Regions from separate parts of the Homo sapiens genome. Here region 1 is linked to region 2. The links come from fine-mapping of genetic effects on gene expression. A gene starts in region 2. The other region holds a variant in brackets. All regions are shown on one strand. Distances are from middle to middle.

The links.
Region 1: its variant is fine-mapped to the expression of MSRB2 in whole blood (TOPMed, PIP 0.99).

The regions. Positions count from the first base shown.
Region 1 is chr10:23,068,393-23,073,768 of GRCh38, reverse strand. LOC107984215 (a long non-coding RNA gene) reads left to right here. Exons shown (of 3, transcript XR_001747394.2): 2 at 4,201-4,294. Among named protein-coding and RNA genes, the nearest start is that of MSRB2, 24 kb to the left of the region's middle. RefSeq lists enhancers at 2,960-3,069, 5,315-5,376. The variant G/A (reference allele first, on the strand shown) is at 2,794.
Region 2 is chr10:23,092,625-23,098,000 of GRCh38, reverse strand. MSRB2 (methionine sulfoxide reductase B2) reads right to left here and starts at 2,422. Exons shown (of 5, transcript NM_012228.4): 1 at 2,275-2,422. The coding sequence starts at 2,392. It overlaps LOC107984215 (a long non-coding RNA gene), which reads left to right and starts at 2,722. Exons shown (of 3, transcript XR_001747394.2): 1 at 2,722-3,181. RefSeq lists a silencer at 2,145-2,614.

The DNA.
Region 1 (5,376 bases), 24 kb after region 2:
ACTCATTAAGTGCCAGCCAGGAATGCTCTGTCAATCCTAACACAGGAATGCCTGACAAGTCAAGGCAGCTGAAGACTCTCTTTGGTCCATGAGGTGCTATCTTCCTGTGTTGTAAGACAGAACGCAGAAGGAGCTCCCTTTTGCAAGGCTAAGGGATAGTGTGGCTCCCAAACAGTGAAAGAGAATATCACAGCACTCACACCATGATGAACAATAGGCGTCTGGAAGGTCACTTACACCAATGTGTTTCTTTTTCCTCTTCAGAGTAAATTTTTAGGAGCTAATCTTTCTGGGAGCTCCACTAAGAAGGAAATCAGAATCTCATCCTAATTTGAGTCAATATTCTAAGAATTTTGAGGCACAAACATTCATTTTTTCATTTATTTTGAGACATGGTCTCTCTTTGTCACCCCGGCTGGAGTGCAGTGGTGCCATCATAGCACACTGCAGCCTTCAGCTCCTGGGCTTAAGTGATCCTCCCGCCTCAGCCTCCTGAGTAGCTGGGACCACAGATGCATGCCACCATGTCTGGCTTTTTTTTTTTTTTTTTGTAGAAATGGGTATTGCTGTGTTGCCCAGGCTGGTTTTGAACTCCTGGGCTCATGCGATCCTCTGCCTCAGCCTGCCAGATTGCTGGAATTACAGCCATGAGCCACAAAATATCCTTTAGAGAAGGGAAATGATATCCTAGTTCTTTTCCTGAGGACTTTTATTCTATTCCACTTCCTGATCAGGTAAAAAGTGTTCTGGGAAACCCTGCCTTCCTTATTATTTTCTTTAAGTTCTCTCCTTTTCTCCAACATAGAATTTATGGAAATTGGAGTGCCTGCAAGAAGGGAGACTTGCCTCTGATCCCCTGGCCAGAGGCTTAACAAGCCAGACTAAAGAGTGGTGGGAGAATTTTTTAGAATACTTGACATGAATTCTCTGGAGTTTGGGGAATACAAGCACACAGGGCCTGCTGCCAACTTTTGTTCTGGAGCGTTCTGAAAGAGGAAGGTCCAGTGGAGAGTTCACTCTGCATCAGCAAGTATTTTTTTGTTTGTTTTTGTTTTTTGAGATGGAGTTTCGCTTTTGTTGCCCAGGCTGGAGTGCAATGGTACAATCTCGGCTCACTGCAACCTCCACCTCCTGGGTTCAAGTGATTCTCCTGCCTCAGCCTCCCAAGTAGCTGGAATTATAGGTGCCCGCCAACACGCCCAGTTAATTTTTGTACTTTTAGTAGAGACGGGGTTTCGCCATGTTGGCCAGGCTGGTCTTGAACTCCTGGCCTCAAGTTATCCCCTCACCTCAGCCTCCCAAAGTGCTGGGATTACAGGCCTGAGCCACTGTGCCCGACCTTCTTTTCTCAGTTTTGAATTGTTGCATTGAGATATTAATTCCTTACTTTTCATTCCTTGTCTCAGGCATCTCAGAGCTTCGACTGACTGAATATATGCAGAGTCCAAAATGAGATAAACAAGCAGTTGAGTATACTTTTATTTGGCTCCAATGCCCTCAGTGTGGTCACAGCTGTCACCGGAAGGTTATTCATTTTGCAATTTTGTGTTCTTGTTTCTAGTGCTAATCTCTCCAGGGCACCGGAAGGTTATTCATTTTGCAATTTTGTGTTCTTGTTTCTAGTGCTAATCTCTCCAGGGCATTAAGAAGGCTAGGCCGGGCGCGGTGGCTCACGCCTGTAATCCCAGCACTTTGGGAGGCCGAGGCGGGTGGATCATGAGGTCAGGAGATCGAGACCATCCTGGCTAACAAGGTGAAACCCCGTCTCTACTAAAAATACAAAAAAAAATTAGCCGGGCGCGGTGGCGGGCGCCTGTAGTCCCAGCTACTGGGGAGGCTGAGGCAGGAGAATGGCGTGAACCCGGGAAGCGGAGCTTGCAGTGAGCCGAGATTGCGCCACTGCAGTCCGCAGTCCGGCCTGGGCGACAGAGCGAGACTCCGTCTCAAAAAAAAAAAAAAGAAGGCTAAAATGGGAATTGCGTGGGTTATTAATAAAGAGACTTTGATTCAGAAATTCACAAAACTGCACATCTCTTTCAGTTGTAAGCCAAGGTGATAGTTTACTTTTCAGGACTGAGTAGCATCTGTCCTATTTCTTGCTACACAGACATTGGGAAAGAAAGAGTGAAACTAGCCAGGTGCAGTGGCTCATGCCTGTAATCCCAGCACTTTGGGAGGCTGAGACAGGAGGATCACTTGAGCTCAGGAGTTCGAGACCAGCCTGGGCAACATGGCAAAACCCCATCTCTCCAAAAAATACAAAAATTAGCCAGATGTGGTGGTATACACCTGTAGTCCCAGCTGCTTTGGAGGCTGAGGTGGGGGAATTGCTTGAGCTCATGAGATTGAGGCTGCAGTGAGCTATGATTACACCATTGCACTCCAGCCTGGGCAACAGAGCGAGACCCTGTCTCTATGTAAAAAAAAAAAGAAAAAGACTCAGGCTAGCCTAAGTGGGAGATTTTTTTCAGATTCTAGGCAAGTGGTTCTCAAAGCGTGGCCCCAGACCAGAGAAGCAGGCTCACCTGGAGCTTGTTAACAGTGCAAATTCTGAGGCCTCATCCCAGGCCTAATAGAATGGCTATTTCTGAAAATGGGGCCCAGGAATCATCAGCGTCCAGCTGATTCTGATGCCCGCTGAAGTGTGAGAACTGCTGCTCCGTCAGTCTAGTGTGAGAACAGGTGCCTTGAATTGAATCATGCTATGAGTACAGAGAGCACATTTCAGCTTCCTGTACTGCAGTCTAGCCAGGTTAGCAAATACAGGGTCATAGTTAATAGCTGGGACACTGA[G/A]GACCACTTCTCTTTTAAAGTGGCTTGTGGTTTGGGAACACCACTCCTAAGCCTTAGTTAATGGCGTCAGTAATTACTTGACTGCTTACAATTAGATAATGGTGTCAGCAAATTGGGTAGTTAGTAGCCAATCTTCTGAGGAGCCACCTGAACATGGGCACAGCCCATGGCTGAGTACCCAACCATGACAAAGGGCACATCGGAGACAGATAACCAGATACTATAGAACACATTATTTCTTGAACTGCAACAACCTTGTTACTCCAGACAGAAGAATATTAGCACTTGAGTCACCCAATCTCTGTCTCCCCTCTGTTTTTCTGTGTCCTTTAACAGCCTCTGTGACCCCTGTTTTAAGTGCATGTCCACATCTGCATTTTACAATGGTTTCTATAAAATTGTGACAAGAACGTTCCATCGGAATGTGCAATTAAAAGATAAGTGCTGCCATCAGCACTTTTTTTTTTTTTTTTTTTTTTGATGGAGTCTTGTTCTGCCACCCAGGCTGGAGTGCAGTGGTACAGTCTCGGCTCACTGCAACCTCTGCCTCCTGGGTTCAAGCCATTCTCCTGCCTCAGCCTTCCTAGTAGCTGGGATTACAGGCATGCCTCACCACGCCTGGCATTTTTTTGTATTTTTAGTAGGGGCAGGTTTTCGCCACATTGGCCAGGCTGGTTTGGAATTCCTGACCTCAAGTGATCCGCTCGCCTCAGCCTCCCAAAGTGCTAGGATTACAGGCATGAGCCACCGCACCTGGCCCATCAGCACTCTGAATAGATCTTTCTAATCACTTGAACCCAGGAGGCAGAGGTTGCAGTGAGCCGAGATTGTGCCATTGCACTCTAGCCTGGGTGACAGAGCGAGACTCCATCTCAAAAAAAAAGATCTTTCTGGGCCTTAACTCCAGCAATAGCCAGAAGAGTGTGTGTGCACCCAGCCTGACCAGGACAGTCTTCTCCCTTTCTCATGCGTTTCTGTCTTAATGAGATGGGCAATTGCTAAGGAGAACTTCGGTGCCAGAGGATGGCAGCCAAAGCCTACCTGCCCTGGGCTTCTCCCTATACATGGAGACACTGCTACCACCTAACCCACTACTACCCTGCCCCAACCATGGCCAGTTCTTCCTCTTGGACACATGTGGGAACTGTTGTTCCTTTTTGGGAAATGCCATCATTCTTCTTTGTTTCACTGTTGTCACTATGAGACCCAGGGACCTGAAAACAAATCAATTAGAACAAGATAGGAATTAGCATGTATCAAATAAGACTGAGGAGTAATTACTGCGTGGGTGAACCTGTGCAAAAACAGTCACGCTGGTCGCATATTTATGTCCTGCCATTTGCTAGAAACTTTCAAGCGTCTACTACTGTTACTTTAAAAATGTCTACATGGAAATTCTATCCCCAGCCTAACCTGAACTTAAGCCGGCAGATGAGGATAAGGCTCCCCAGCCTCCCGGAACAAGCAGACAGTTATTAATGGAAATGTTCCACCAGTTCAGGTATGTGCTAACATCTGTTAAAATTGCATTTGTACAGGATTGCATGAATTACTGATACATGAACACATTGCTTTAGCCAAACACAAGCTTTTATGATTTCATGATGAGGCTTCCCAGAGTTCTAGGTTATGACAACCTGACTTTCAAAGTTACACGTTAAAGCAATCTGTTTGCATCCCAGGCTGACTGTGCAGAAGAGATTTGCGGTTGGGACAATCTGCCATTTAAAGAGAATGAGGTCTCTAGTCATTAAGGGAGACAGAATCTGTGGCTGGGACTTTTTCTGGGGCATCCTGAGTAGGTAGCTGTGTGGCCTGTCACAGTGCGGTTTTTCAGAGGAATGTGTGTCATGCGTAGAATAGAGAAATTTATTCCTGAGCATTTTAATTTTTTTTAGAGACAAGTTCTTGCTCTGTCACCCAGACTGGGACACAGTGGTGCAATCATGGCTCACTGCAGCCTCAAACTCCTGGGCTCAAGTGATCCTTCCACCTCAGACTCCTGAGTAGCTGAGACTACAGGTATGCACCAGCATGCCTGGCTAATTTTCTTTCTTTCTTTATTTTTTTTTTTGTAGAAATGGGATCTGACTATGTTGCCCAGGCTGCTCTTGAACTCCTGGGCTCAAGCAATCCTCTGGCCTCAGCCTACCACAGCTTTTGGATTACAGGCATGAGCCACCTGGCCTCTTGAGTGTCCTTAAATAAAAATCAGCAGGTGCAAGTGCCAGGGCCTTGTCAAGCCTCCACTATTGCTGGATCGACATCTCTTCTGCCCATGGCTTTTCCCAGGATCATCTCTGCATTGCTATAGACTCCGCCATCTGTCTCACCCTGCTTTTGAGTTGGTGCATCTTACTGGGGGCTCTAGACAAATTAAGCATTGTTGTGAAGTGCACTGGCTCCGTGCTGAACTTGCTTTTTATTCCACCTACCTTCTTATAAAAAATGTTTTGGAAAGTAAGGGATCAGAGAAGGTTTCTACAGTTTTGGTGCATTATTAGGCCAGGTCCTTGTTTCAGTCTCCACTTAGCCTAACTAAAGACACCTTCCGCTCTGTAAAAAAGGTTATCGTTATGGATC
Region 2 (5,376 bases):
TCAATCTGGATTAAAAAAAATCACTCTAAGCATATGAGAAATTGCAGCACTGGAAAAAAATACTGTCATTTCAATATCTTCTCATTTCCCCCCTCCCAATGTCTCCCTCTCTCTCAACACTCCCGAAGCCCATGATGTAAGTTAAATGTAGCTACATTTTTGTCCTTTCCACTTATTTATGTAATCATAACTAACATTTATTGTGTGCCTAAGTGTCAAGCATTGTAACAAAATATTTAATTAAAAAGTTATTCTTTACAACAACCCTACCATTATCATTATCCTTATTTGACAGAAGGAAAAAAAATCTGAAGTTTAAACTTTCCAAATTCAAGAAACATGTCCAAAGACATTGTTACAAACTGAATATTATATGTTCTCCCTGCTCCTCTCCCCACTCCCATATGCTAAAGCCCTAACTCCCAATGAGATGGAATGTGGAGGTGGGGCTTGGGAGGTTATTAGTTTTAGATTAGATCATAAAGGTGAGGCTCTCTTGAGGGATTAGTGGTCCTTCCTGAGACAGTCACCTGAAGGCAGAGTGAGAAGGCAGTCAACTGCAAGCCAGGAAGCAGGTCTGCATCAGGAACCAAATCTGTTCCCACCTTGATCTTGGACTTCCCAGCCTCCAGAACTGTGAGAAAATGTTGTTGAAGCCACCCAGTCCACGGTGTTTTGCAATAGCAGCCTGAGCTCAGACACAGAGCCAGGAAGTAACCGAGAGCCAAGACTCAAAATCTGCATCTATTCATACCCAAGCCCTTCACCACAGAAATACTCCGTTTATCATTTTTAATGGCTGCCTAACAGTTTGTTGGATTGAATTTTCATGATTTACGTAAGTATTTCTTAACTGATTTGGGTTACAGCCAGTTTCCATTTTGTAAGAGACTAGTGCTTAAAGCATCTTTGCATATATCTCTTTGTTCTTCTTTTGAACTATTTCCTTCGAATAGATTCCCAGGAGGGGTGTCTGATAAGGTACACAGCTCCTGTTACCTACTGGTGGCTGGCCAAATTTTATTGTTGCTGGAGAACTTCAGATCCCAGGGCAATTCATTAGGCTGCTTCTGACAGCAGCAATTACAGCCATGAAGTAGTTACCGCTAAAACCACCATCCTTTTTCAAGGGGTTATAGAGAGCTCGTCGGTAACTGTGACCTGTTTCTATCACCTGTGGTTCTCAGCAATACAATGCTTGGCACACAGTAGGCTCACAGCAAATGTCATCAGACTGACTAGAGACACCAGTGATTAGAAAGGCCATAGCTGGAAGTCAAGTTGGATGAGCTAACATTCCACAACGCCAACGCTTTTATTTAGTTACGTATTCTTTCAATATTGCATTTCGAAAACTTCAGGGGCTAAAAAGAGCTCAGAATGAGTTGGTACATTTTCATCAGTTGGGTATCTCTGAATGTCTTCAATGAACACATATAAAATTGGATTCAGAGTGGGTCAGTCTGGCAACCGCCCAGGAAGCCAATCCCCTGGGGCACTAAGTTACCCTGAAATAGAACTGAAATACAGGGGTAGCTGGCACAGGTCTCCCGAGGTGACTCCTTCCTGCTTGGTGAAATGTGCAGGTACCCAGATCCAAGAGAGGATCCAAAAGTATTTAGCAGAAACACACACACACACACACACAGAGAGAGAGAGAGACACACACACACAGGCTCGCCCTGGTCTCTGTCTCAGTCATTAACAATGGCTGTCACCTTAAAGAAGGAACAAATGATCAACCCAGTCTCCCTGGCTCTTAGACACATTTATGGGAAGTCAGCAGGGCAGGAAACACTCACAGGAACCCCAAGTCTGAACTGCCTGCTTCTCAGATGCTGGAAGGAAGCCCGCGGAACTACGAAGAGGGCTGCAATGCAAAATACTAGGGGCCTTCGCAGGGGCGCGCGGGCCGGGCTGCTACAGCCCAGGCCCCGGGCCTTCGCCTGGAGTCCCCGATAGGGGTCAGAGGCCCCCGAGCCCCACTTATGCCCCCACTCCCCGAGCCAAGAAAAAAAAAATTATGCGCACATTTAGGGGGATCATTTGTTCATTTCCTCGGATTCTCACAGGGGTCAGTCCCCACCCTGCCGCCACCAAGTTTACAATCCACTGTCCCAGATCCTCGGGCTGGGGGGGGGGAGGGGCGCGCCGAGGAGGGCTTAGTAGGAGGGCAGCGCCCGGCCTGGACCGGCCCTAGGCTCCCGGGTGCAGCCGGTGAAATGAAGCCGAAAGCCGTAGGCGGCGGCGGGGCCTGCGGGACCCGCGTCCTACCTGCCTCCCCCAGTCCCGGCCCGGTGCCGGGCCCGCCGCCGCCCGCTTGGCCCCGCACCGCCCGCCGAGGCGCAGTTCCGAGGGTCAGGCCCCGGAGCAACCAGAGGAGCCGCGCCATGACGCCCGCTCCGGCGCCGCTCCGCCCTCTGCCCTCTGCCCGTCTCTGCCCCTGCTCCCATCCCACCCCTCCCCCATTCTCTCCCGTCCGCCTGCGCTAGTCGGCCTCCCTCCCCACGCTCCGCCCACACCGCCAGTCCCCTCGTCTCCCTCCCCCTCTTCTCCCTCCCCTGCCCCTCCCTCCTTCCCTCCTTCCCACCTGCTCCTCCCACTATGTGCCCTGGGCCCTCCCAGGTCCCCGCCCCTCTTTCCTCCCACTCTGCCTCTCTCTCCCCCTCCCTCTTCCTCTCCTTTTCCCCTTGCCTTTCCTCCCCCTTCCTCTCCCCCTTCCTCTCTCCCTTCCCTTCCATGAGACCCTCCCCAACCCATCTCTGCATCTCCCAGCTCCTCCCACTCCTGCTCCTCCCTCGCCCTGCCCCCCTCCACCTATCCCAACTCCACTCATCCGCAGCCCAAACACTGATCTGTTTTAGTTTGCATTTTCTAGAGTCGTCCATAAATGGAATCATCCCATATGTACTTGATTTTGTCTGGCTTCTTTCACTCAACATAGTTACTTTGACATGCCTGCGTGTTTTTGCATGGAACAATCATTCATTGCTTCCTGAGCAGTATTCCATTTATGGATATACCACCGTGTGTTTAGTCAGCACTTGATTTAGCCTGCTTTCAATTTTTCCTGATTAGAACTACAGCTGCTAGGAACATCCCTGTGCAAATCTTTGTACAGACATATACGGTTTTTCCTCTCTGGGGTAAATACCTGGAAGTGGAATGCCCAGGTCGTAAGGTAGGTGTAACCATTTAAGAAACTACTATACTGTTTTCCCAAGTGGTTTTTTTCTTTACCTTCCCACTAGCAGTCTATGCGAGTTCCAGTTGTTCTTCATCCTTGCCAACACTTGAAAGTCCAGAGATTTTAACTGTAGATGTTCCGGTTCTGTGTAGTGGTAGCTCATTGTGGCTTTATTATGCATTCTCTAATCGTTAATGATGTTAAGCATCTTTTCATGTGCGTATTTGCAGCGAGTGTATTTTCCTTGGTGAAGTGTCCGTTCAGATCTTTTGCCCATTTAATGTTGAGTTGTTTCATTATTGAGCTTAGAACACTTTATATATTTTGGATGCAAATCTTTTATCAAACATATGCTTTACAAAGATTTTTTTTCCCAGTCTCTTGTTTGTCTTTTCTGTCTCCTAATATTGTCTTGGGAAGAGCAGTTTTTAATTTTGATGAAGCCCAATTTATCAATTTGTTAATGGATTGTTCTTTTTTTGGTATCATATTTAAGAAATCTTTGCCTAATCCAAGATCACAAAGATTCTCTCCTATGTTTTGTTCTAAAATTTTTATAGTTCTAGGTTTTACATTTAGGTCTCTGACCGATTTAGAATTTTTATATATGGCCAAAATTTTTGTTTTGTTTTGTTTATCTGTTTTGTTTTTTGCATATCTATATCCAGTTGTTCCAGCACCATTTTTATTGATTGATTGATTGATTGATTGAGACAGAGTCTCTGTCGGCCAGGCTGGAGTGCAGTGGCACGATCTTGGCTCACTGCAACTTCCATCTTCCAGGCTCAAGCAATTCTTCTGCCTCAGCCTCCTGAGTAGCTGGGATTACAGGCGTGTGCCACCACGTCTGGCTAATTTTTGTATTTTTAGTAGAGACGGGGTTTCACCATGTTGGCCAGTCTGGTCTTGAACTCCTGATCTCAGGTAATCTGCCTGCCTCGGCCTCCCAAAGTGCTGGGATTACAGGCGTGAGCCACCAGGCCTGGCTCCTAGCACCAATTTTTAAAAGACTACTCTTTCTCCACTGAACTGTTTTTGAATCTGTCAAAAATCAGTTTCCTATCAATGTGTTGTGTCTATTTCTGGACTTCCTATTTTGTCCCATTAATTAATTTGTCTATTTTTACATCAATATTACAATATCCTGATGACTGGACTTGCAACCAGCTAGCATTGGTACTGTACCTCTGTTCTTTTTTAAGGTTGTTTGGGCTATTTTAGGTCTTTTGTATTTCAACATAAATTTTAGATTCAGTCTGTCAATTTCTACACATGATCTTACTTAAGTTTTGATTGGGATTGCATTGATTCTATCCATAAGTTTGGGGGAAATTAATATCATAACAATATTGAATCTTTTGACCCATGAATAAAGATATGCCTATCTATTTATTTAGGTCTTCCTTAACACCTACTAGTAGTGTTTTGTAGTTTTCACTGTATAGGTTTTGCACATCTTTTGATAGATTCATCCTAAAGCATTTCATATTTTTGATGCTGTGGTATTGTTTTATCAATTTCAATTTCTGATTGCTAGTATGTAGATTTTGTATATTGATCTTGTATTCTGTAATCTTTCTAAACTCATTTCTTAGTTCTAGTAACATTTTATGGATTTTATCAGATTTTCTACATAGAAAAATCATGTCATCTGTGTAGAAAGAGTTTTACTCTTTCTTTTTAATACAGATGTCTTTGATTTCTTTTTCTTGCCTTATTGCACTGGTTAGAGCCTGCGCAGTGTTGAATAGAAATGTTGAGAGTGAACATCCTTGTCTTGTTCCTGATCTTAGAGGAAAAGTATTCAGCCTTTTACCATTAAGTATGATATTAGCTATAAGTTTTTCATAAATTTTCTATCAGATTAAGGAAATTTCTATTTGTAGTCTACTGAGAGTTTTTATCAGGAAGGGATGTTGGATTTTTGTCAAATGCTTTTCTGCAGCTACTGATATAATCATACCTTTTTCCTATTTTCTTTTTGTAGTTTGTTACTTGATTTTCAAACGTTAAACCAACTTAGTATTTCTTCAATAAAGCCTGCTTTGTCAGTTTTATTATTTGTTTCATGTATTGTTGGATTATGTTCTATGTATCATGGATTACATTTTTTTAGAATTTTTGTGTCTGTGTTGATGAAGGATGTTGGACTGAAAGCTTCCTCTCTTATAGTATCTGTCTGGTTTTGT